Homo sapiens: one gene and its partners. The protein of the gene in region 6 purifies or fractionates together with the protein of the main gene of each other region. This does not show direct contact. Each region holds a gene or a part of one and is shown on either strand. Other genes may lie near its edges.

Region 1 (4,155 bases), on a different chromosome or scaffold from region 6:
TACTAGTAATATTAAAATTTACATAAAGACAAAGAATATATATGAAATAGATTTTTTTAGATGGTATTTCAACTTAAGTAACTGTATTAAGAAATGAAAAACTGGTATTTTACTGCCTAGTTTTCAAAACACTAAAATCTTTAATTTGACCAAGTTACAAATCTGTTTTCAGTAGAGGGAGAAAACACACTGCCTCCGTTCAATGCAAAGGACAAAAAAGATCATCACTGCAAATCATAATGTTTGGGTTCATGATGAAAACAGGAAACAGACAGGCTGCCCAGGTATAATTATGGTTGTAATCTAATGTGCCTTCAGGTTCAGCCAAGAATTAAAACCCAGTGAAGAGGGTAAGCAGAATTTACTTGCCTCTACTTTGCTGCAGAATGCAACTTTTAATAATACTCCCAGCAACATGTTACATAACCAACAGTAAACAACAATCTGATTCAAACCTCATTAGTAACAACATTCTGCCACTGTCTCCCACTGAAATTAATAGCTGACTTTGCCAGAGGGGAAAGAAATCCAACACATTATCAATCTACCCATTTCTGTGGCGCCTACCACAGTGAACCAGACACGCAGATAATACTACCAGATCTGTACAGAACCTACGAAAATATTTTATTCTTTTTTTCCAGTTTGCTGCTCTCTTCCTCCTTTTAACTAGACCATATCATGTGGATGCCTTTAAAACCTGAGAGTAAAGTCAGTTGAGAAGGTTAATCTAACTTTTCTTGCTTATTTCAGCTATGATCTGAAAGGAATGGAAGCACAAAATGATGAATAAGGTATTTTTAACAAAGATACATGGGTAAATTAACAGCAGTAATGTAAAAAAGACTGAGGGAGCAACAATGTGGAAAGGGAAGGAAAGGAAGCTGTATAGGAACAATCACACAAATAATCATCAAAATTAAACTTTATAAATCTAAACATAGTATCTACAACCTTTATGAAGGTTAAGTTTTGTTAAATTGTCTAAGTTTTGCATTTTTACAATTTTCACTGTAGAGAAAAAAATATTAATAGTTACCAAAGGAATAAAAGACTAAAATAATTTGTTATACATCTGCAAATAGCTCCTTAAATTTGGAACACTAATTTCATAATGATATTTGGATCCATAAATGTGAAACTGTCACACTGAATGTAGGTACTGTTTTCCCCACAATGGATACTACTGCATTGGCATCTAGCAGAAATTGTAAGCTATTTGGAATGTTACTAAACCTACTGGGACTAAGGTTTTCAATCTTTTGTCTTTCAAATTAAAATTAAAAACTAATTCACTCTGGGCAATTCAGGTACTCTAAGGAAATTCAAGTACTCTAGTTTTAAATACGAATTTTCAAAAACGCAACCCAAGTACCCTTTCCTCTCAACTTCTGTGAGGCCAAGCCACGACCTCCACCTATTCAATCTTTGCTGCTAGATAACAACCCTTTTGGTAGTGCTAGGCAACAGGCATGATGTGACAAACCTAGACATCAAAACTTTTCCACAGAAAGATAAGGTAAACAAGATATACTTAGCGCCACACCCATTTAAATGCACAAGCAACCAAAATTGCTCCCTCCCCCCGCAACACCCCCCCCCCCCCCCCAAAGCTCCAGCTGGTCAGGAAACATTGTCTTTACAATCAAGATAAACATCTGGCTCAGGGTGTTCAGCCATTCCTCACCTACAGGCTTGCCTAAGCCCCATTCTCCAATGCCATCACCACCAGAACCGGAACATTCTGTTGGGAAGCCGGCAAACGTCCAAATACCCCAAGTATCCTCGCCCGAGTTCTGCAACCAAAAATCTGTTTTGGCTACTGAGCATGCTCAGACTTAAGACGGGCGCGCCACATGGGAGTTTTCAAAGCTTAGGCTCCAAACTCCACGTAGTAACAGCAGCTGAAAGGAGGAGAGGGGAAAAGGGGAGGGGAAGAGACTGGAATATTAATTTGAGCCCTGATATTGAAGTATAGGACCCGGCCAGCGGCTGAATATGGTGAAGGCAAAAAGACGCTGCTTTGGCATTCTCTTTGCAGCACAGAGAAGTTTACATGAAGTAGAAGAAATCCTTGCAGTGGTGAAAACTGACATGGCAAGTGGCAGAAACCAGGTCTAACTACCAGCTGATTGCAGTAGCCGGTCACAACTGCCCAGAGTGTAATTCCCACCGATAAGCGCGGATCCTTATCTTTGAAACACAAAGCGACGGCGGCACGGATTCATCAAGCCATTGGACAGCTTCGCAGTGCAGCAGCCCAGGCTGCCCGGCCGAGCACCGCAGTCCTATCAAGGGTGTGTATCCAGGGTGGTACATCCGATGAGTTAGGAAAGCAAACCGCTCCCCAGGACAGCGCGGGGTCAGGGGGTCCCCTCCAGGGCGTCCCAGACGCCTCCCTCCAAAGTCTGGGCGGTAACAGCGGGGCTGGGACGAGGGCCAGCCCCGGCCCCGCCTCAGGACGCCCCGGGCAGCCAGCGAGGCCTCCGCAGCCGCTGGGCCGCACCGTGTCCGCCAGCCGGGACCCCGGCAGGCCAGGACTCGGCCTACCTCCCGCCCGACAGGCCCTGGGTCGTTTCCGCTCCGTCCGCGGCCGAACGCCCCCGCCTCGGCCCGAGTCCGCCGGGGCAGAGCCTGCAGCCCCCAGTTCCCCTCGCCCGCGCGCGCCGGGGACCCTCACTCACTCGCGAGCCGGCTAGGCGCGCTCTCCCGACGCCGTCGCTGCGCTTCTCCTCGCTGCAACTTTATTAGCAGCTCGGCCGCGGGACACGCGCACGGCGCCCGCTCGCCCAGGACCCGGATGAGGGAGGGAGGGAGAGGGAGCCCGGGAGGACGCCCGCTGGGGTCGGCGCATGCGCGCCAGAGGCGGAGTGACCGCTGCGGGACCGAGGGAGGGGTGTCTTGCCCGGGCGGCTGAAAGAAGCCTCCGCGCCGGGCTCCGCGCCGGCCAACGCCGACTTCCGATCAGCTGGAGGCCTTCGCGTCGATGGCCAGGCCTGGGAATGGGAATCAGATAGCTCCCACCACCACCACAGTAGGCGCTAGAAGCTTCCACTAACCAAATCAGTATACATTGTAATAAAATTAAGTAATTGTCCTTGACACAGACAACTGGAGGTTTTCTGTCACATACAAAGTGTAAACAAAAACATCTTCAGATACGACTTAGCTACTTTTATTGATCTGTAATACAAATCTGAATGAAGAGTCTTCTTTCTGTGCAAAGTAGCTTCAAAACATGTTTCTGAGCATCTTACAGCTTCTTACTAGATGCAGCACTAAAACCCCTCCCACGGGGCAATCCTGGAACCCTTGAGGGCCTGTGGAAATGGAGCGAGTGCCCACCCTGGAGTTCCAGGAGTGGGACTGCCCATACACTGGATCGCAACCCCAGTTGTTCAAGACACATAGCCTCTCCACCTCCTTGTGGGGAGGGAGATCCCGTGGGGACCCAGCCCCTGGACAGGCGGGGCCACTGAGTTGCAGAGACACCATCCATAGGCTTATATACACCACCCCATCTCCTGGACTCTCTTTTCTAAGTAATTGGAGCTCTTCTCGATGCTTTTTCCTCCAAATTTCCAAAACCGTCAGTATTTCCTAGAATATAATATTGGTACCACATAGGGTACCCGATTTGAATAGTACTAGTAAGAAAAAGCTTTTGAATAATTTTGTTTTTATTTGAAAAGGTCAATACTGGCTCTCCAATGTTCTATTATAGGTTTTCTTTTTAAAATAAGTAAAAATCAAAATCGGGGTCATTTTGGAATGCTCTTTGACACCCTAATCCAATCCATCAGAAATTCTACTGACTCTTTCTTCAAAATTTATCCTAAATCTGACCATTTCTCACACCTCAATTGCCACCTCCATGGCCCGAGCCAGGGTCATCTCATCTGACACACAAATGGCGCAGCCACTATTTTGCTCCAGGCTCTAGAAGTTTATTTCTGTGGAGAAGAAACTAAATAAATGTCCAGAAGTCTCTGCATTAGGGGTGGCCATCTGAAATGGTGACAGAGGGCTAGTAAAGGAGTGAAGGGGAAGTGGGGGAAGAGACCAGAGAGTGAGTGTCTAGTTCCAGAGACCAAAGGGGTCACTGCTATTTCATTCCAGCCAACTGTTACCATAGGGAAATGTGGGAATAAGGAC
Region 2 (3,502 bases), on a different chromosome or scaffold from region 6:
TCTCCTGGGCTCAGGTGATCCTTCTACCTCAGCCTCCTGAGTAGCTGGAACCACATGTGTATGCCACTACACCTGGATAGGTTATTATTTTTTATTTTGTACAGATGAGGTTCCCTATGTTTCCCAGGCTGGTCTCGAACTCCTGGGCTCAAGCGATCCGATCCTTCCACTTTGGCCTCCTAAACTGCTGGAATTACAGGTGTGAGCCACTGGGCCTGGCCATGATGGTCATTTTTATGTGGCAACTTGACTGGGCCATGGGGTGCCCAGACATTTGGCCAAACCCTATTCTGGGAGTGTCTATGAGGGTGTTCTGGATGAGATGAACATTGGGGTTTGTAGACTGAGCAAGGCAGATTATTCTCCTTAATGTGGGTGGGTCTCATTCAATCAACTCAAGATGTGAATAGAATAAAAAGCTAAGTAACCAGAAGCTCCTCCTCCCTGACTGCTTGAGCTAGAACATTGGTCTTTTCCTGCCTTTGGACTTGAACTGAAACAACCCCTCTTCTTGGGTCTCAGGCCTGCTGGCCTTTGGATTGGAACTTACATCATTGGCTCTCCTAGGTCTCCAGATTGCAAACTGAAGAATCTCAGGACTGCTTAGCTTCCATTATCAATAAGCCAATTCCTTATAATAAATCTCTACACACACACACACACGCACACACACACACACCCTGCCAGTTCTGTTTCTCTGAAGATTCCTAATGCTTAGTTCCAGGATTTTCATCTGGGATTGCTTTTCCCCAGTTCTCAGTCCACGCAGTTCAGGTCTGTTTCTGCCAGGGCTGCTAAGCTTTGGGGATTTAAGCCTAATTTGCTGGTGGCAATTTTGTCACCATGAGGAATAAGTCTGCCTGACAACGAGCAGTGCAGAAGCATGAGGAGTCCAGAGATGGGAGAGCCGGCTTCCCAATGACAGGGTTTGAGCTCCTGGATCCTGCCGTGCCCGAGACAGTGCAGTCCTGGATTGCTCCATTCTGTGGACTAATACATTGCACACAGTCCCTTTTGGTTTTTGGCTTAAGGCATGTAAAGTTGGGTTTCTGTCATTTGTAATTGTAAGAGCAATTAGAAGTTACTTTAAAATACTATTTAATCAGTATCCCGCTTAAGGTGTTTCCCATTTCACTATTACAATCAGTGTTGCCAGGAACATCTTGTACACTTATCTTTGAACAATCCTATGAATATATAGGTAGGACACCTTCCTAAGACAGGAACTTGTGGATCAAAAAACAGGTGCATTTTGGCCGGGCACGGTGGCTCAGGCCTGTAATCCCAGCACCTTGGGAGGCAAAGGCGGGCGGATCACCTGAGGTCAGGAGTTCGAGGCCAGCCTGACCAACATGGAGAAACCCCATCTCTACTAAAAATACAAAATTAGCTAGGCGTAGTGGCGCATGCCTGTAATCCCAGCTACTCAGGAGGCTGACAGAGAATCGCTTGAACCCAGGAGGTGGAGGTTGTGATGAGCCGAGATCGTGCCATTGCACTCCAGCCTGGGCAACAAGAGTGAAACTCCATCTCAAAACAAAATCAAAGACAAAAAACAGGTGCATTTAAAACTGTGACTGTTATTGCCTTCCAAAAGGGTTTCCCAATTCATGCTTCCAACAGTATATGAAGAATTCCTACTTCCTTATATCCTTATCAGCAATGAATATTATTATCATGCTTAATTTTGTTCAAAGGGTGAAAATAGTATCTTGTTTTAAGTTACATCTCTATAGTTACTAAGGAGGTTGAATATCTTTTCATATTATTTAGCTAGCCTGTGGATTTCTTTTTTTAAGAATTGCTTTTCTTATCCTTTGTCCATTTTCCTACTAAGTTGCTTATCTTATTTATTTGAAGGAGCTCTTTATATATGATGGACAGCAATCCTTTGTCTGTAATAAGCACTATGAAATAAATAGAGATTTGGAGACAGATGGGAACCTGAGCCCAGAGATCTTCCAGAGTGGGCAGGAGCTGGCTCTTACCTGACTCTGGTCCTCTGGATCCACAAAGATATTTTCAGCTGTCACATTTCCATGAACATACTCATTCTCATGGAGGAACTCCAGGGCATCCAGCTGGGGGAAGAAGCAAGTCAGTGTCTGCATGAGCAGTACGACTAACACAGAGAGGCTATGGTGCAGACCAGGAGGGAGCCCCACTATTAAGGCCTGGGGTTGTCCGACACTGTGACTGGGGGTTAAACCTGACTAAATCCGGGGTAGCATGAGGAGCCCGCTGTGACAGCACATTGAGCACGCCTCTAATCAGGCTCTCAGGAAGCTCATCAATTGAGCTAAAGCGTGGCTTCCTATCTACTCCTGTATTTCTCTCTTAGCTGATGACAAACTCAGCAGAGGGAAAAGGGGTTAATGTCTCTCTGCAAAAATGACTCAGCACCTGTGGATATCAAAGAGCTCTTCTCACCTGTCCTAGAGAGCAGAAATAAATCTTGTTAAGCAATTTATATCTTGATCTCCAGCTCCAGCTGTCCCTATGAGCTCCAGACTCTTTTTTTGCTGTGTGTATATATATATTTTTGAGACAGGGTCTTACTCCTGTTGCCCAGGCTGGAGTGCAGTGGTACAATCACTGCTCACTGTAGCCTTGATTTCCCAAGCTCAGGTGATCCTCCCACCTCAGCCTCACAAGTAGCTGGGACTACAGGTGGGTGCCACCACACCCGGCTAATTTTTTGTATTTTTATTAGAGAGGGCATTTTGCCATGTTGCCCAGGCTGGTCTTGAACTCCTGAGCTCAAGTGATCCACCTGCCTCGTCCTCCCAAAGTGCTGGGATTACTGGCATGAGCTGCTGCGCCCGGCCAATTCTTTGATTGTGTCTGCTGCCTGAGTGTCAGCTACATTCTGATCATATCCCCAACCCTCTTTGACCCCAGGGCTCTACTGTCCACCAAATTCTGCTCGTTCTCCTCCTATAGACTCTCCACCCCCGGGGCCCGGGACCCTCCTCAGCCTTGTCCTCTCCCACATGGACCCTCACTCAGATTCTTCTCCCCATTCCAGTCCCTCCCCATATGGCCCCTGAGGGCCTTTCTGTACCCAGAGCTGACCCCGCCCTCCCCTAATCCCAGCACTCTTGTGGCTCTCCAGTGCCCTCAAGACAGATCCCAGCCCCTCAGCCTGCTGTGCGAGGCCCCGTGTGATGTGGTCACCGCTGACCTCTCCAGACCAACTCCATCTCTTCCGCACTGCAGTGCCATACTGCAGATACTGAACATAAAGACCTTAGGACTCAGCATGTCGCTCCCTTGGTACGTCCATCCCTCCAGCGATGCAAACTGGGCCCTCTTACTCTCAATCACAGCAGGGGCCGCTTCTATTCAGAGCACTTGTCATAGTTTGTGCAACTGTTTGATTCACTATTGGCCCCTCCCACTAGACTGTGAGCTCTAAGACACAGAAACCATGTTTATGCTGCTCCCTGCTCTGCACCCAGCCCCGGGGACAGCGTCTGGCACCCAGCAAGTGCCTGATGAA
Region 3 (3,502 bases), on a different chromosome or scaffold from region 6:
TTTGTCTCTTAAGAAACTTGTGTCAACTAAAGTTGTTAGGATTTCAAGATATCTGTTAGCATTAGGAGTCATTATACCCATGAAAACTGGATGTTCTTCTTGCTTGGTGGTCTTCATCCTGACACTTCCTACCCCAAAACCATGACGGACACCTCGGCCGCACTTGCCTGACTTGTATTCTGCTCTCCTTTGGTGTCGGCTTCCTTTTGTGTTAGGCTGACCCAAGACCACTTTTCCAGGCTTATCTTCCCGGTCTTTCCCTATTTTATGCTGCAGTTAAAATAGCAAATGCTAGTTTCCATGCATACCCTGGCTTTCCTCTCCTGTGCACCTTTACCCCACGCTGAGGCCTTCCCAGCTTCCCCACCTCCCACAGGATCCTCAAATATGACTTCTTCATCTTGTATGCCCTGTTCAGGCGCTGCCTTCACGGGACTTTCTGTGATGACCCTGGTCCCAGGTATGTCCTCCTTCGAGCTCCTGTGGCTCTTCGCCTTTTCAACTCTTACCTGTTTTGTATTAAGTTACTCATAGACTAATTTATTTCTTCCCCTCAGACCATCCTTACAAGATCCAGGAAGGAAGGGACTGTTTCATCTACCTTTTTTATTCTCTGAATGCTGACCACAGTGCCCTTTATAGTACTCTATCAATAAATAACAAATACATGACACATTTTTTCACTGAACCCATGGTCCCTCCTGAAATAAAGTCTGTAAAAGCATTTCACCCATAGGATAAAGTCCATCTTTCAAGAAGCTGGTGTTGAATCTGAGCTGAGGACTAGTTCAGAGGCCTGAAATCCCCTCAGCCCAGTTGAGAGCCTCCTTCTCCTGAACATTGTGGCTGAGCATTACAGTCAGGAAAAGCTTCTATGATACTCTTATTGCATTAGCAGTTTTCCATATCAGATTCACTAAATACACAATGGAAGCCATTTAGTAGAAAAACAGATTTTAATGTGATACGGCTACCACAATGAAACACTAATGTGATTCCACAGAAAATTGCTAACACGATATGCTGATTCCTCCCCCCACCATAGCCGCATAAAAATTGATACTGTTTTTAATGTATGTGTTTCAAACTATGCTCACAAAAGAAAAGCAGACTGCTACTGAGATGAGCTGCTGCTTTGTTCACGTTGGATGTGTAAAGGGTCTTGTTATCAGCCTCGTCAGGCAGAATCTGCCTTCTGTGCCTTGGTCATTCTATTATCGAACAATACTAACTCTCATTTTAAAATATATCATGTTCTGTGTAACAATCCAGTATTAAAGTTAATATGATGTGAAAAAATAGAATTTGCTTATAAATGTCATGCCCATATAATATATTCAGTTGTACCGTTTTAATTGGGAAGCTCTAATCAGCTCAAAACGCATTTTTCAAGAATCAAAACGACTCCCAATATAAAATTTAAATTCAGAATTTAAAATAAAAGGCATAAATATTAAGGTGGATTGTATATGTGTGTGCACACGGTTGTAACACTTTAGAAGTCATAAGCACTGAAGAGATTATGGTTCTTCCCCCTCATTCCCAGCCCACATTTAATTCAAAGAAAAAAGTTTAACCCAAAGAATAATTGTAAAGGAGACCTATGTAGTTCTGATTTTTTCCTATAATGACAATTTCCAATTCCTCTTTTTTAGATATTAAATATCAAAATCTTCTCTCTCTCTCTCTCTCTTTGTCTCATTCTTTGGTACTCTGATTAGCTGATTCACTGGTGGGGATTATTTTTATGTGAATTTCCCCTTGGGGAAATTTAATACTTAATATCTGATCACTTCCTTTTCTTTTTCATATTTAATTCTGAGGGACTATAAATAGAAAACATGTACTCCTCAGTCCCGAGGAGAGTTTGGTGCTGCAGTTGCGAAAAGCAATCTTCAGTTTACAAGCACTAGGAGTGCCAGGGATGCCCATTCATTCTAGGACTCCAGTTGCCAGTTTTCTATCACTGAACAAAGGAATCTGGATAGCATACATGTGGTCTTGCGGCCATTCAAACGTGTTGGTGACATTGGGGATTCTGAGTTGAGGATTCTGACGACTTAGAGTTTGCAAGTAGTAGAAGTGTGAACACTGTGAGGTAGCCACATCCTGAACTCACTGACCCCAGGAGCACATCCCTAGATACACTGGGCCATTTGCCTTAAATGACTGCTTTAATCTATGGAATATCTTCTTCCATACAGCCTGTTTTTTACTTTTCATCTGTTAAAGTGCTTAGAAGCCTATCAAATACAGATTTACTTTGGTTACTGTGTATTTTGATTTGTTTTCACAAAACGCAATAATTGTGCAATGGTTAATGTCATTCTAAAGGATTTTGTCCTACGTACTTGTGGGCTATGGAAAGCTTACAGCAGATTTGCAGGTCTTTTTTAAGAAGCATTTGATGGATGGTAGCGTTCAACTGAAGTGCCAGGAGTTGCTTTCTGAATTCTTGTATCTAAATTTAACTGACTTGGTAGTACCACATTTCAGGAGTTAATGGTAACGCAGAAAGGGATTCACAGATTCCATCAGTTTCCCACTTTGTGGCAGAATATTTGACATCTCTTATCAGTACACTTCATCATAAGTTCATGAATTCATCTTGCTCCTTTCTTTGCTGAGAATCACAGTGAGAGAATTGGAGTTTGGCTGAGAGGAGGAGTGAGGAAGGAAGAAGGAAGAGTAAGTTTTTTTTTGTTTTGTTTTTGTTTTTTGAGATGGAGTCTCTCTCTGTCGCCCAGGCTGGAGTGCAGTGGCACCATCTCGGCTCACTGCAAGCTCCACCTCCCGGGTTCATGCCATTCTCCCGCTTCAGCCTCCCAAGTAGCTGGGACTACAGGCACCTGCCACCACGCCCGGCTAATTTTTTGTATTTTTAGTAGAGACAGGGTTTCACCATGTTAGCCAGGATGGTCTCGATCTCCTGACCTCATGATCCGCCGGCCTCGGCCTCCCAAAGTGCTGGGTTTACAGGCGTGATCCACCGCGCCTGGCCCGAGAGTAAGTCATTTTAAGGCTTGGGCAGTAGCACTGTTGAGAAGTTTGAGGCACCTAAGTGTGGAAAGAGGGTGTTACAGAAAGCAGATTGGCAGATGCCAAAGGTAGACATCACATATTTGAATTAGTGTTAGTAGTATGAAAGGCACCTGCGTTGTGAGTTGAGAGGATCCTAGTGAGCTGGCCAGGGAAGTACATTAGCACTCATGACATTGTTCTAGGGGAAGGTGAATTCCAGTTTCCAAATAACTATGCAGGATTGAACACCATTTGTTCATAAAGCAAGACCACCAGTGATTGATGATATGGGTGATTATTATTAATGACATAAGTGATTATTAGAAGCCAAGAATGGTGGTAATGAATGTGGAAGATGAAAAATGTGTTAAGCTAAAAAGATTTTAGGTCTCATGTGGTTTTCTTTGTCTTGTTTATGCATTTAGTCATTCTTTGTTTTCTAGTGGAAGTAGAATTTTATTTTTAGGAATAGGAGTTGAAT
Region 4 (3,502 bases), on a different chromosome or scaffold from region 6:
ATCAGATTAAAAATTACTTATTGAGGCTGGACATGGTGGCTCATGCCTGTAATCCCAGCACTTTGGGAGGCCGAGGCGAGGCGGACTGCTTGAGCCCGGGAGTTCGAGGCCAGCCTGGGCAACAAAGTGAGACCTCTTCTCTACAAAAGAAAAATTTAAAAGTGAGGCAGGAGGATTGTTTGAGCCCAGGAGGTCACGACTGCAATAAGCTGTCATCGTGCCACTGCACTCCCACCTGAACGACAGGAGTGAGACCCTGTCTCAAAAAAAAAAAAAAAAAAACTACTTCGTGATCTGGATATGTACAAACAAGACTAGAAGAGAAGACATAGAGAAGAAATTCTGATTTATAAACTTCTGTGCAACTGTACAATATATTACTTTATAATGTATTGATTTTTTAAAAACTATTCTTCTCACAAAGTTGATTATTAAAATGAAAAAAAGCAAGCTACCAAATAGTAAAGTACCTTCCTATTTGTTTAATATACACACCCACCATGCACATATAACTATATGCATACACAACATGAACACAAATATTAACAAAGTCTGGAAAATATATAGGGTTAATTAACACCTATTGATTCCGGATAGGTGGGACTGGGAAATTATGTACATTTGTTTTCTTCTGTTTGCTTGCTTACATTTTTATATTTTCAATAATGAAGATATGATTGCTTACATAATAAGGAAAAAGTTAATTTTCACTTAAATGTTAAGGCCAGGTGCGGTGGGTTATACCTGTAATCCCACTGCTTTGGGAGACCTAGGTGGGAGGACCACACAAGGCCAGGAATTAGAGACCAGTCCGGGCAACACAGCAAGAACCCATCTCCACAAAAAATTTATTAATAAAAAATTAGCTGGGTGTGGTGGCTCACACCTGTAGTTGTAGCTACTCAGGAGGCTAAGGCAGAAGGATTGCTTGAGCCCAGGAGGTCGAGGCTGCAGTAAGCCATGACTGCGCCATTGCACTTCAGCCTGGGTGACACAGTGAGCCCCTGACTCAAAAACAAAACAAAACAACTTTAAATAGAAGCTCATTGTGGCAGTGTACATAACAGGAAAAAACTTTAAACAACCTAAATATCCTTTAACAAATGGGGAACAAATAATTTCAGTTCTAAGATGGAATACTATAAAACAGTTTAAATGAAATAACTACAAATATGTAGCTATAGATACTTCAATAAGACTAGATAGATCTAAACACATTTGTGGAGTAAACAAGCAAGTGGTAGAACAATAATAATACAATAATCACATAAATGTTTTAAAACACAACAATCTAGAATACTGGTAATACGTATCAGTGATATAATATATATCCTGAAAAGAGACAGGAAAACTATACACACCAAATATCTGTTACCAGTTAGAACAAAAGAGGAGAGAGGAATTAAACTGGAGAGTGGTACAAAGGAAATTTCAATTATGCTTATTAACATTTCAGCTCTTTTAAGAGAAAAAGGGAAAGAACTTCAGGTGCAGGCATTTGTCAGTGGTGGCAGGATCGCACGTTTGTCATACTTATTCTCTTCTTTTTCTAGATTTTAAAATTTTTTCTTCACACAAAAAAATCGTATTTCACATGTTCAAGTGTATTTTAAAATTAAAAATACCATGGTCAGGCGCAGTGGCTCACGCCTGTAATCCCAGTACTTTGGGAGGCCGAGGTGGGCAGATCACCTGAGGTCGGGAGTTTGAGACCAGCCTGACCAACATGGAGAAACCCCGTCTCTAGTAAAAATACAAAAATTAGCCGGGTGTGGTGGCGGGCACCTGTAATCCCGGCTACTTGGGAGGCTGAGGCAGGAGAATCGCTTGAACTGGGGAGGCAGAGGTCGCAGTGAGCCGAGATAGTACCATTGCATTCCAGCCTGGACAACAGAGCAAGACTCTGTCTTGAAAAAAAAAAAAAATTAAAAATACCAAACCATAGTTTCTTAAACAGCATATACATACAAGGAGTTGTAACACTGCACATCTCAACTGTACAAGAAACATGTGAAGCCTGTTTCCCATTTGGCTGAACTGTCACACGCTCTTCACCTGTCACCAAGTCACATGGCACACCCTAGAAAGACAGAAAAAAAACTAGAATTATTGAAAATAATGCAAAAATACGTTTTGGATATTTAACAGGGTGTTCTCTCCACTACCACCAAATTAGTTTGTTTCACAGTTAAAACATAATGTTCCCACGGCCAGACACGGTGGCTCATGCCTGTAATCCCAGCACTTTGGGAGGCTGAGGTGGGCAGATCACAAGGTCAAGAGATAGAGACCATCCTGGCCAACATGATGAAATCCCATCTCTACCAAAAACAGAAAAAGTAGCTGGGAGTGGTGTTGCACACCTGTGGTCCCAGCTACTCGGGAGGCTGAGGCAGGGGAATCACTTGAACTGAGAGATGGAGGTTCAGTGAGCCGAGATCATGCCACTGCACTCCAGCCTGGAGACAGAGCAAGACTGTCTCAAAAAAAAAAAAAAAAAAATTCCCAATGCTTTTTTCCCTTTTATAAAAAATAAAGTAAAATAAGAGCCACTCTCTTACACAACTTGGGTAAACCTGGAAACATCTCAAATCAGCTAAATCCTCAGGTAACAAAAGCATGAGACACTGCAGCAGTTTCACATTTTAACTTTGTACATCTCTGAACTATTTGACTTCATTAAAATGAGTTGTTTCTATATTCAAGAAGAACATTATAAATACAATTTAAGAATGTAAAGACCTCCTATTATAATTCCCTGAGAGGGACCAACATTAATGCTGTATCAGGGTGATCAACCATTCTGGTTTGTCTAGGACTAATGGGTTCCCCAGAATGGAGGACTCTTGGTGCTAAATCTGGAGAAGTCCAGGCAAACTGGGATGGCTGGTCATCATAATAGCCTGAATCTAATCATGGGGAAACACCAGACACATCCAAACTGAGAGACAGTTCACAACACAACTGACCTATAGTCTTCCAAAATGTACAGGTTATGAAAGACAAAGGAAGACTGAGGAACTGTCCAAGATTAATGGAAACTAGAGATATGACAACTAAATACAGTGTAAGACCCTGAAAAGAACCCTGGAGGGGTGGAGGATGGGGTGTAATTGGACAATTGATAAAATTTGAATATAGATTGTGTATTAAGTAAGAGTAATCTATCAATATTAAATGTCCTGCTTCAGACAAATATCCTGTGGTTACGTAAAAGTCTGTTCTGAGGAAACATATTCTCAAGTATTTACAGATAAAGAGGTATTATGTATGTAAATTGCTCAAACTGTTCAGAAAAAAAAAAAGAGAATGCAAATTACCTACCAAAACTGGTTAAACTCACATTATAAAGTCATAATAAAACAATGAACCAAAATGTAGCCCATTTAGTGAAAATGATGCCTCAGACTACAGGGCTTCAGTCCTTTCAGTTTTGAAAAGGTAGCTTCAGTCTTTATCATTAGCTCTAGCTGATAGCATCAGAGGTCTAATCTATAAAAGG
Region 5 (3,502 bases), on a different chromosome or scaffold from region 6:
TTTAAATCAACAAGATTCAAAATCGGCTTTCATCCAACCAGATACAGGTAAGTGGTTTCAGTGGCTGAGAGGCTCCCTGAAAAACCCTCTGCTGTAAGTAGAGTGTGGTAGTGAAGAGAAAAACAGTCTGGATTGTCTATGCAGTCGACCAAGATCCAACTATAAATGGACTTCCCATCAAGTTAGCAAAAATCATCCACTGTAAACTGTCGACAAATGTCAGTTCTAATTCCACTGTAGAGGTTTTTCCCTAGGTTGATGAAAGGCAAGAGAATGAACTAAGGAGCCAGCTGTGAATTCTTGATTGTTCTACTGTTGACTGATTTAGGTCACTCTAATGAGGTTTCCTTTCCACTGTTCAAGTTCATCCTATGGCAGCTTTGTCACTCAAAAGTTTCAGGGGAAAGGGGGGAAAATGAGTTCTTACAGTTCTGCTACTAAAAATTTTACAATTGTTATGTGAAAACTGAGTGCAATAACTCAAAGAGTATAACTGGACTGCTTGTAACACAATGGATATACGCTTGAGGAAATGGGTACCCTATTTTCCATAGTGTGATAGCTCACATTGCATGCCTGTATCAAAACATCTCATGTACCCCATATACACCTACTATGTACCCACAAAAATCAAAACACACACACACACACACACTTTGGGAGGCTGAAGCGAGCAGATCACTTGAGGCCAGGAGTTTGGGACAGGCCTGGCCAACATGGCAAAACTCTGTCTCTACTAAAAAAACACAAAAAATTAGCCAGGCATGGTGGTGCACACCTGTAATCCCAGTTATTCAGGAGGCTTGAGGCACAAGAATCGCTTGAACCATGGAGATGGAGGTTGCAGTGGGCCAAGATTGCACCACTGCACTCTAGCCTGGGCGACAGTGTGAGACTCTGTCTCAAAACATGCTGAATGACTAGTGTCATAATAAATGTAAATTGCCTTACTTTTTGAAAACAGACAGCTTTGTAAAATGGTACAACGGTTTGGAAAACAGTCTAGCAACTTCTTAAAAAGTTAAACATAATTACTATATAACCTACACGATTCCACAAATCTAAGAAACATGAAAATGTATGGTCACATAGAAACTTGTCCATGAATGTTCACAGCAGCATTATTCAGAACAGCCAAACAGTGCAAACCACTCAAATGTAAAACTGATGAAACGAGAAGCTATATAAAATATGAAATATGGCATATAGGTATACAATGGAATACTACTTGGTAATCAAAAGGGATGAAATGTACTGATGAATGCTACCACATGGAACCTTAAAAGTATAAAGTAAAAGAAGCCAGTCACAAAAGGCCACAAACTATATGATTCCATTATATAAAATGTCCAGGCTGGGCGGGGTTGCTCATGCCTGTAATCCTAGTACTTTGGGAGGCTAAGGTGGGTGGATCACGAGGTCAGGAGTCTGAGACCAGCCTGACCAATGTGTTTAAACACCATCTCTACTAAAAATACAAAAAAATTAGCTGGGTGTGGTGGCATGTGCCTGCAATCCCAGCTACTCAGGAGGCTGAGACAGGAGAATCCCTTGAATCTGGGAGGCGGAGCTTGCAGTGAGCCGAGATCATACCACTGCACTCCAGCCTGGGAGACAGAGCGAGACTCCGTCTAAAAAAAAAATAAAAAAATAAAAATAAAAAAATAAAAATAAAAGAAGTACAGCACAAGCATATCTATGGAAAGAAAATATAGTGGTTGCCTAGAATGAGACAGGTAAGTGGGAGGGATGGGGGACTGACTGCTAATGGGTACGGGGAAAGAATTCTGGAGCGATGAAAATGTTCTGGGTTTGACTTCTTACCTCTGTATGGAATTTGTTGTCACACAAATACAATGACGTATTAATTGGTTTGAAAGGTTCAAAGTCAATGTTGACTTTCTTTTCCTTTCCTTCTTCTGTTACAATTGTTCCACAGTATACAACCAGACCATTTGGAGGTACTGCAAAGAACACAAACAATTTTTCTACTTTACCCCATATCTAGTTTTTCGTCAATTAATAGAAAATGTTCCCATAGCCTATTTTCCCTGCCTGATCCTTTAAGTCATAATTTAAATAAAGCAGAAAAAGCTTGAAATCTCTCAGGCAGAACTCTCTCCCTAATTTTAAAACTTCTTCTGAGACGTTTCAGTACGATTTATTCTTTAAAGTAAACAGGCTGGACGTGGTGGTGGCTCACGCCTGTAATCCCAGCACTCTGGGAGGCCGAGGTAGGCGGATCACCTGACGTCAGGAATTCAAGACCAACCTGGCCAACATGGTGAAACCCCATCTCTACGAAAAATACAAAAAGTAGCCAGGCGTGGTGATGGGCACCTGTAGTCCCAGCTACTCGAGAGGCTGAGACGGAAGAATCACTTCAACCTGGGAGGCTTGTGGTGAGCTGAGATCGGATTACTGCACTTCAGTCTCTGGGTGACAGAGCAAGACTCTGTCTCATCCCAAAAAAAAAAAAAAAAAAAAAAATTGAGACAACGCCTCACTCTGTCACTCAGGCTAGTGTGCAGCAGCGAGATCGTGGCTCACTGCAACTCCCACCTCCCGGGTCCAGTTGATTCTCTCGCCTCAGCCTCCAGAGTAGATGGGACTACAGGTGTGTGCCACCAGGCCTGGCTAACTTTTGTATTTTTTGTAGAGACAGGGTTTCACACCATGTTGTCCAGGCTGGTCTCGAACTCCTGACCTCAAGTGATCCACCTGCCTCAGCTTCCCAAAGTGCTGGGATTACAGGCATGAGCCACTGTGCCTGGCCTACTTAACTTTCAATAAACAAAAAACAAAACAAAACAAAAAAGCTAACCACCAAGGCCAAAGAGACACTGATGACAGCCGACTTAAGGGAACATTAGTGAACAAAGCACCATAGCAGCATCACAGTATAAAACATAACCAAAATGTGTAGAGAAGGAAAAGGAGCAAACTCCAGATTACCTTTGTTATAAAGTTTGAGTCTTTGTTGTACAGATGTAATGGCTCCCAGGACTGAAAGGCGGTTTACTCGTGACTTAATGTTAGATGCAGTTCCAAACTCATCCGCTAACATTTTTGCCACTCGTGAAATCTGGTCTTTGGGAGGAATGATCAATGATATCATGCTGGTGCCATTGCTGTGGAAGAAAGAATAACTCATTAGGGATTTAAATATCATGTAAGTAAACTCATGTTTCTCTCTGGTAAAAGCAAGCTACAGGGAGATGCCCCAAAGTTATGGAAACAGGTCACTCTCAAAGGAGTAATGTAGGGACTATATTAGTCTTGTTTATGAACGTATACACAGAGTTAGGAACAGTGTTCAGAATCTAGTGCTCAATTTGATTGAATAGTGAGGTAAGTTATGTAAAGAATACACTTGGAGAGATACTTGAGAAACACCTCATTTCCTAAAGAAAGAAGCTATCTATGATAAATAAGGAGTGTCAACAGGCTGGAATTTGGTAGTGAATCTGTCCGTGGGAGAGCCTTCAAATGTGGTGGTTGA
Region 6 (3,502 bases):
ATAACAAATATTTGCACACTTCTACATGTTTAATTTAATGTTCCTTGCCTGAAACAATCACCTGTCAATCAGTTCACCTAAAGCAGAGGAAAAAAAAGCAGGCAGAAATCATCAGTTTGTCCCAGTGATTAAAACTATATGTGCCTAGAAATAATGATTAATTAAAAATGTACTTTATTAACCATAATCCCACACTTAACATGAATACATTTCTATCTTGAGAGTTTATTTCATTGCTTTACTTCACAGAAGATTTTTCTGATATCACAGTTGTTAACATTATTTATAAAGCAATTAGTTTTTCCGTTTTTGTCAGCCCTAGTCCAATCTTCATACACAACAACACACCAATACACACACATATCACATACATCTATAAAAACGTGTTCCTGCTTTTTAGGATAAAGAAAACTTAGTACATATTGTTTCATGTATAAGAATCATCCATGGCTATATTAACACACAAATACAGGTAACTTGAACCAGGATACCTTGTTCCACATTTTACTTTTGTTATCTGAGTTAGCAGCCGGTGGGGGTACTTGGTACAGTGATATTGACTGTCTACACTGCCAAATGAAACTTTCCTCTTTTTCTCTTCAATCTGCCTGGTAAAAACAAATAGCTTTACATGATAGTTGACAAACAGATAGATGGATAGGCAGATAGACAGACAGGTAGATGAGAGATAAAATAAGCCACAACATTTCTCACCAAATAGTATCTCCCTGATCTGGCATTACTATCCAACAGGTCCCATGAATTAACGCAAACTCTATATGACTGTAATGTTAACTCACAAATATTGAGCATTTAAAATATCCCAGGCACTCGATTGTCAGTCACATGTGTTACGTTAATCCTTACAGCAGCCTTATAAAGTGGGTATTATTATTCCTCTTATTTTGTAGATGAACAACTAAGTCTTAGATAGGTTAGGTATACAACTGGCTCAAGGTCACAAACAAAGCAGGTAAGTGGCAGACCTGGGATTTGAACCCAGTTTTGTCTAACTGTAAAGACTGTGCTCCTAGCCTCTTAACAATGCTACTACCCGGTAGTATACAAGCATTTGCTACCATAAAAAAATACTTTAGGAAACTAAAATTGTCACTGATTCAGTTAATTTCCCAGGACAAAAGAAAACCTGGTAGCCTTTAGGGGTTCTATCTAACCATCTGATTTGGACACTCTGAATCATTGTTTATTATCACTTTTGAATGGCTCCACAAAGGAATCATTTGTTGTCAGAGGTTAGTGGCATTGTCTTACCTTCAGTCCCAAGGGCATGAATTTAGCGAAAGCCCAGAGTGTCAAGTAAATAATACCCTCTTCAGAGCATTGCCTCATGGAGAGGGAGGTGCCCTGAGAAGATCACAGACTCTACCTTGGAACGCTTAGATTCCAATTCCTGCTCTTCCATTTTAGCTTTATGACTTTGGGCAGGTCCTTGAAGACCTCAATTTGGTTTCATCCGTGCAATGGAGATGACTCCTCCTGTGAGACATCATTCCTAGAAGTACTTAGAAGTTCCTGCCTCCCATGAGGTGCTCCATAAGTGTTCTTTCACTCCTAACTAGATGGAACCCTTAAAGGGAGTTTTTCTTTTTTTTTTTTTTTCTTTTTGAGACGGAGTCTCGCTCTGTCGCCCAGGCTGGAGTGCAGTGACGCGGTCTCTGCTCACTGCAAGCTGCGCCTCCCGGGTTCACTCCATTCTCCTGCCTCAGCCTCTCAAGTAGCTGGGACTACAGGCGCCTGCCACCACACCCGGCTAATTTTTTGTATTTTTAGTAGAGACGGGGTTTCACCATGTTAGCCAGGATGGTCTCGATCTCCTGACCTCGTAATCCGCCCGCCTCTGCCTCCCAGAAAGGGAGTTTTTCTTCAAGTTAGTTTCCTCTCACAGAAGCCTTGGTCAATGCAAGTATTCCTTCACACCCATCTGTCACCTTTAGAATGAGGCTTTTAAGGATCCCTTTGGCTATTGCATAGTGAGTTATACATGAGTGTGGAGTTCTCTAGCACAGAAGCAGCATCTGACTTAATCTTTGGAAGCAACTGTAAGATTGCACAGTTAACCCAGTAGTAAATTACACAAACATGGAAAATAGAAATCCTTTTTATTGAAAAGGGGGTGTGAAGTCAGGGTGGGAGAAGGAGCCTATTGACCTTAGAAGTTAACAGTGCTACACCAGGCTTTTTCTGCACGGTTGTTATGTTTCAGGGGCCATGATGTGATCTGGGTGTATCTAAAATCTATTGAAGAGAGAGGTTTTTTTTCTGAAAGAGTTTCACTGTATTTCAAAATCAGAGAAAGCAAATCTCTCAAAAACAGAAAAAGCCCTGCAAATAAGATGACTTTTAAATGAGCATCTCATTTACAAAAAGCCTATTGAGAAATAAAATTTGCACCATTAACTAAAGGGCAAAATATCACGATTATCACTCGGACTTGTTAAAAGCAAACTTGCTCCTTGGTCGTTCAGGCCAGTGTTACATGTAAACTGAAACCCTCTTCTGAGACTACATCTAGAAGAAACACATTAGCTGTGCTGTGTGGCGTCAATCTGGGAGGTTTTCATTGTTCTTTAAAACCCACATTATTTAATCATTCTAATCAAACTCCACAAAGGCTGCAAAACAAGTTAGGGTTTTAGTTTGTAAACCAGCTTAGATCCAGGATTTTTACATATTGGAAAACATCAGCTTTAATATTGTTTTCCTGTGTTTAATGCTCTTCAGGATATTATTTTTCAAAAAAGACAAACAAAACATTCAGGAGGCTTGTTTTGTTTTAACATATGCAATACTGTAGAAGTGTATATTTGGTTTTCCTTTGCCAGAATAGAATTTGGCTTTATACTACAAACCCATGTATAACAGAGGCATAACTAATTCTCACTATTTATTGCTCACATCAAGAGAGAAAAGGGAGATATGGTCGGAATTCTCATTGGTAAGAACTGAAATTTCAGACTGTTACCAGCACTATTATGCGAATATTTACAACAATCATATCTCATTAAAAGTGTCATTTCTCCCTTGTTTGCCCTCATTAATATTTTTATGTTTTAAACTTCAGATTCAAAACTGTACACTTAATTTTATGATATATTTAGAAGCAAGTCCATGAAGATTAGGAGAAATGTTAAATGGGAAATATAATTATTTCTTTCTCTAAGAAGTTCTGTACTCCAGGCTCTTCAATGTACTGCATATTTTAAAAACTAATTAGGAAAGAAATTCACTAGCAAATACATCTCTTGAGCTTGAAAACAGTGCTTAGCACTAGTGCCTCGTGTACAGGAGGTGTTCACTATATACTTGTTGAAGGAAGGGAAGGAGGGAGGCAAAGAGAGAGGCAGGGAGGAACGGAGGGAGGGAGGGAGGAAGGGAGGAAGGGAGGGAGTGAGGGAGGGAAGGAAAGAAGGAAGGAAGGAAAAAAAGGAAGGAGGAAGAAGGGAGGGAGGGAGGGCAAGAGGAAAGGAAGGAAAAGTGTTTA

What was found.
Region 1: the proteins of HMGA2 (region 6) and SMAD5 purify together in Homo sapiens (affinity purification with western blotting, with the first as the bait; one study listed by BioGRID). This does not show direct contact.
Region 2: the proteins of HMGA2 (region 6) and VRK3 purify together in Homo sapiens (affinity purification with mass spectrometry; one large-scale study listed by BioGRID and IntAct). This does not show direct contact.
Region 3: the proteins of HMGA2 (region 6) and SMAD9 purify together in Homo sapiens (affinity purification with western blotting, with the first as the bait; one study listed by BioGRID). This does not show direct contact.
Region 4: the proteins of HMGA2 (region 6) and SUPV3L1 purify together in Homo sapiens (affinity purification with mass spectrometry; one large-scale study listed by BioGRID and IntAct). This does not show direct contact.
Region 5: the proteins of HMGA2 (region 6) and ETF1 fractionate together in Homo sapiens (co-fractionation; one large-scale study listed by BioGRID). This does not show direct contact.

Annotation. Positions count from the first base shown.
Region 1 is NC_000005.10:136,131,492-136,135,646, reverse strand, and holds the start of SMAD5 (mothers against decapentaplegic homolog 5), read right to left. Parts: upstream 2,803-4,155; 5' UTR 2,685-2,802; exon of another isoform or gene 757-2,684; intron 1-756. UniProt on the Homo sapiens protein: Transcriptional regulator that plays a role in various cellular processes including embryonic development, cell differentiation, angiogenesis and tissue homeostasis.
Region 2 is NC_000019.10:49,990,872-49,994,373, forward strand, and holds part of VRK3 (serine/threonine-protein kinase VRK3), read right to left. Parts: intron 2,082-3,502; coding exon 1,989-2,081; intron 1-1,988. UniProt on the Homo sapiens protein: Plays a role in the regulation of the cell cycle by phosphorylating the nuclear envelope protein barrier-to-autointegration factor/BAF that is required for disassembly and reassembly, respectively, of the nuclear envelope during mitosis.
Region 3 is NC_000013.11:36,913,737-36,917,238, reverse strand, and holds part of SMAD9 (mothers against decapentaplegic homolog 9), read left to right. Parts: exon of another isoform or gene 1-460; intron 461-3,502. UniProt on the Homo sapiens protein: Transcriptional modulator activated by BMP (bone morphogenetic proteins) type 1 receptor kinase. SMAD9 is a receptor-regulated SMAD (R-SMAD).
Region 4 is NC_000010.11:69,190,233-69,193,734, reverse strand, and holds part of SUPV3L1 (ATP-dependent RNA helicase SUPV3L1, mitochondrial), read right to left. Parts: intron 2,081-3,502; coding exon 1,969-2,080; intron 1-1,968. UniProt on the Homo sapiens protein: Major helicase player in mitochondrial RNA metabolism. Component of the mitochondrial degradosome (mtEXO) complex, that degrades 3' overhang double-stranded RNA with a 3'-to-5' directionality in an ATP-dependent manner.
Region 5 is NC_000005.10:138,515,737-138,519,238, forward strand, and holds part of ETF1 (eukaryotic peptide chain release factor subunit 1), read right to left. Parts: intron 3,132-3,502; coding exon 2,956-3,131; intron 1,965-2,955; coding exon 1,825-1,964; intron 1-1,824. UniProt on the Homo sapiens protein: Component of the eRF1-eRF3-GTP ternary complex, a ternary complex that mediates translation termination in response to the termination codons. The eRF1-eRF3-GTP complex binds to a stop codon in the ribosomal A-site.
Region 6 is NC_000012.12:65,834,483-65,837,984, reverse strand, and holds part of HMGA2 (high mobility group protein HMGI-C), read right to left. Parts: intron 1-3,502.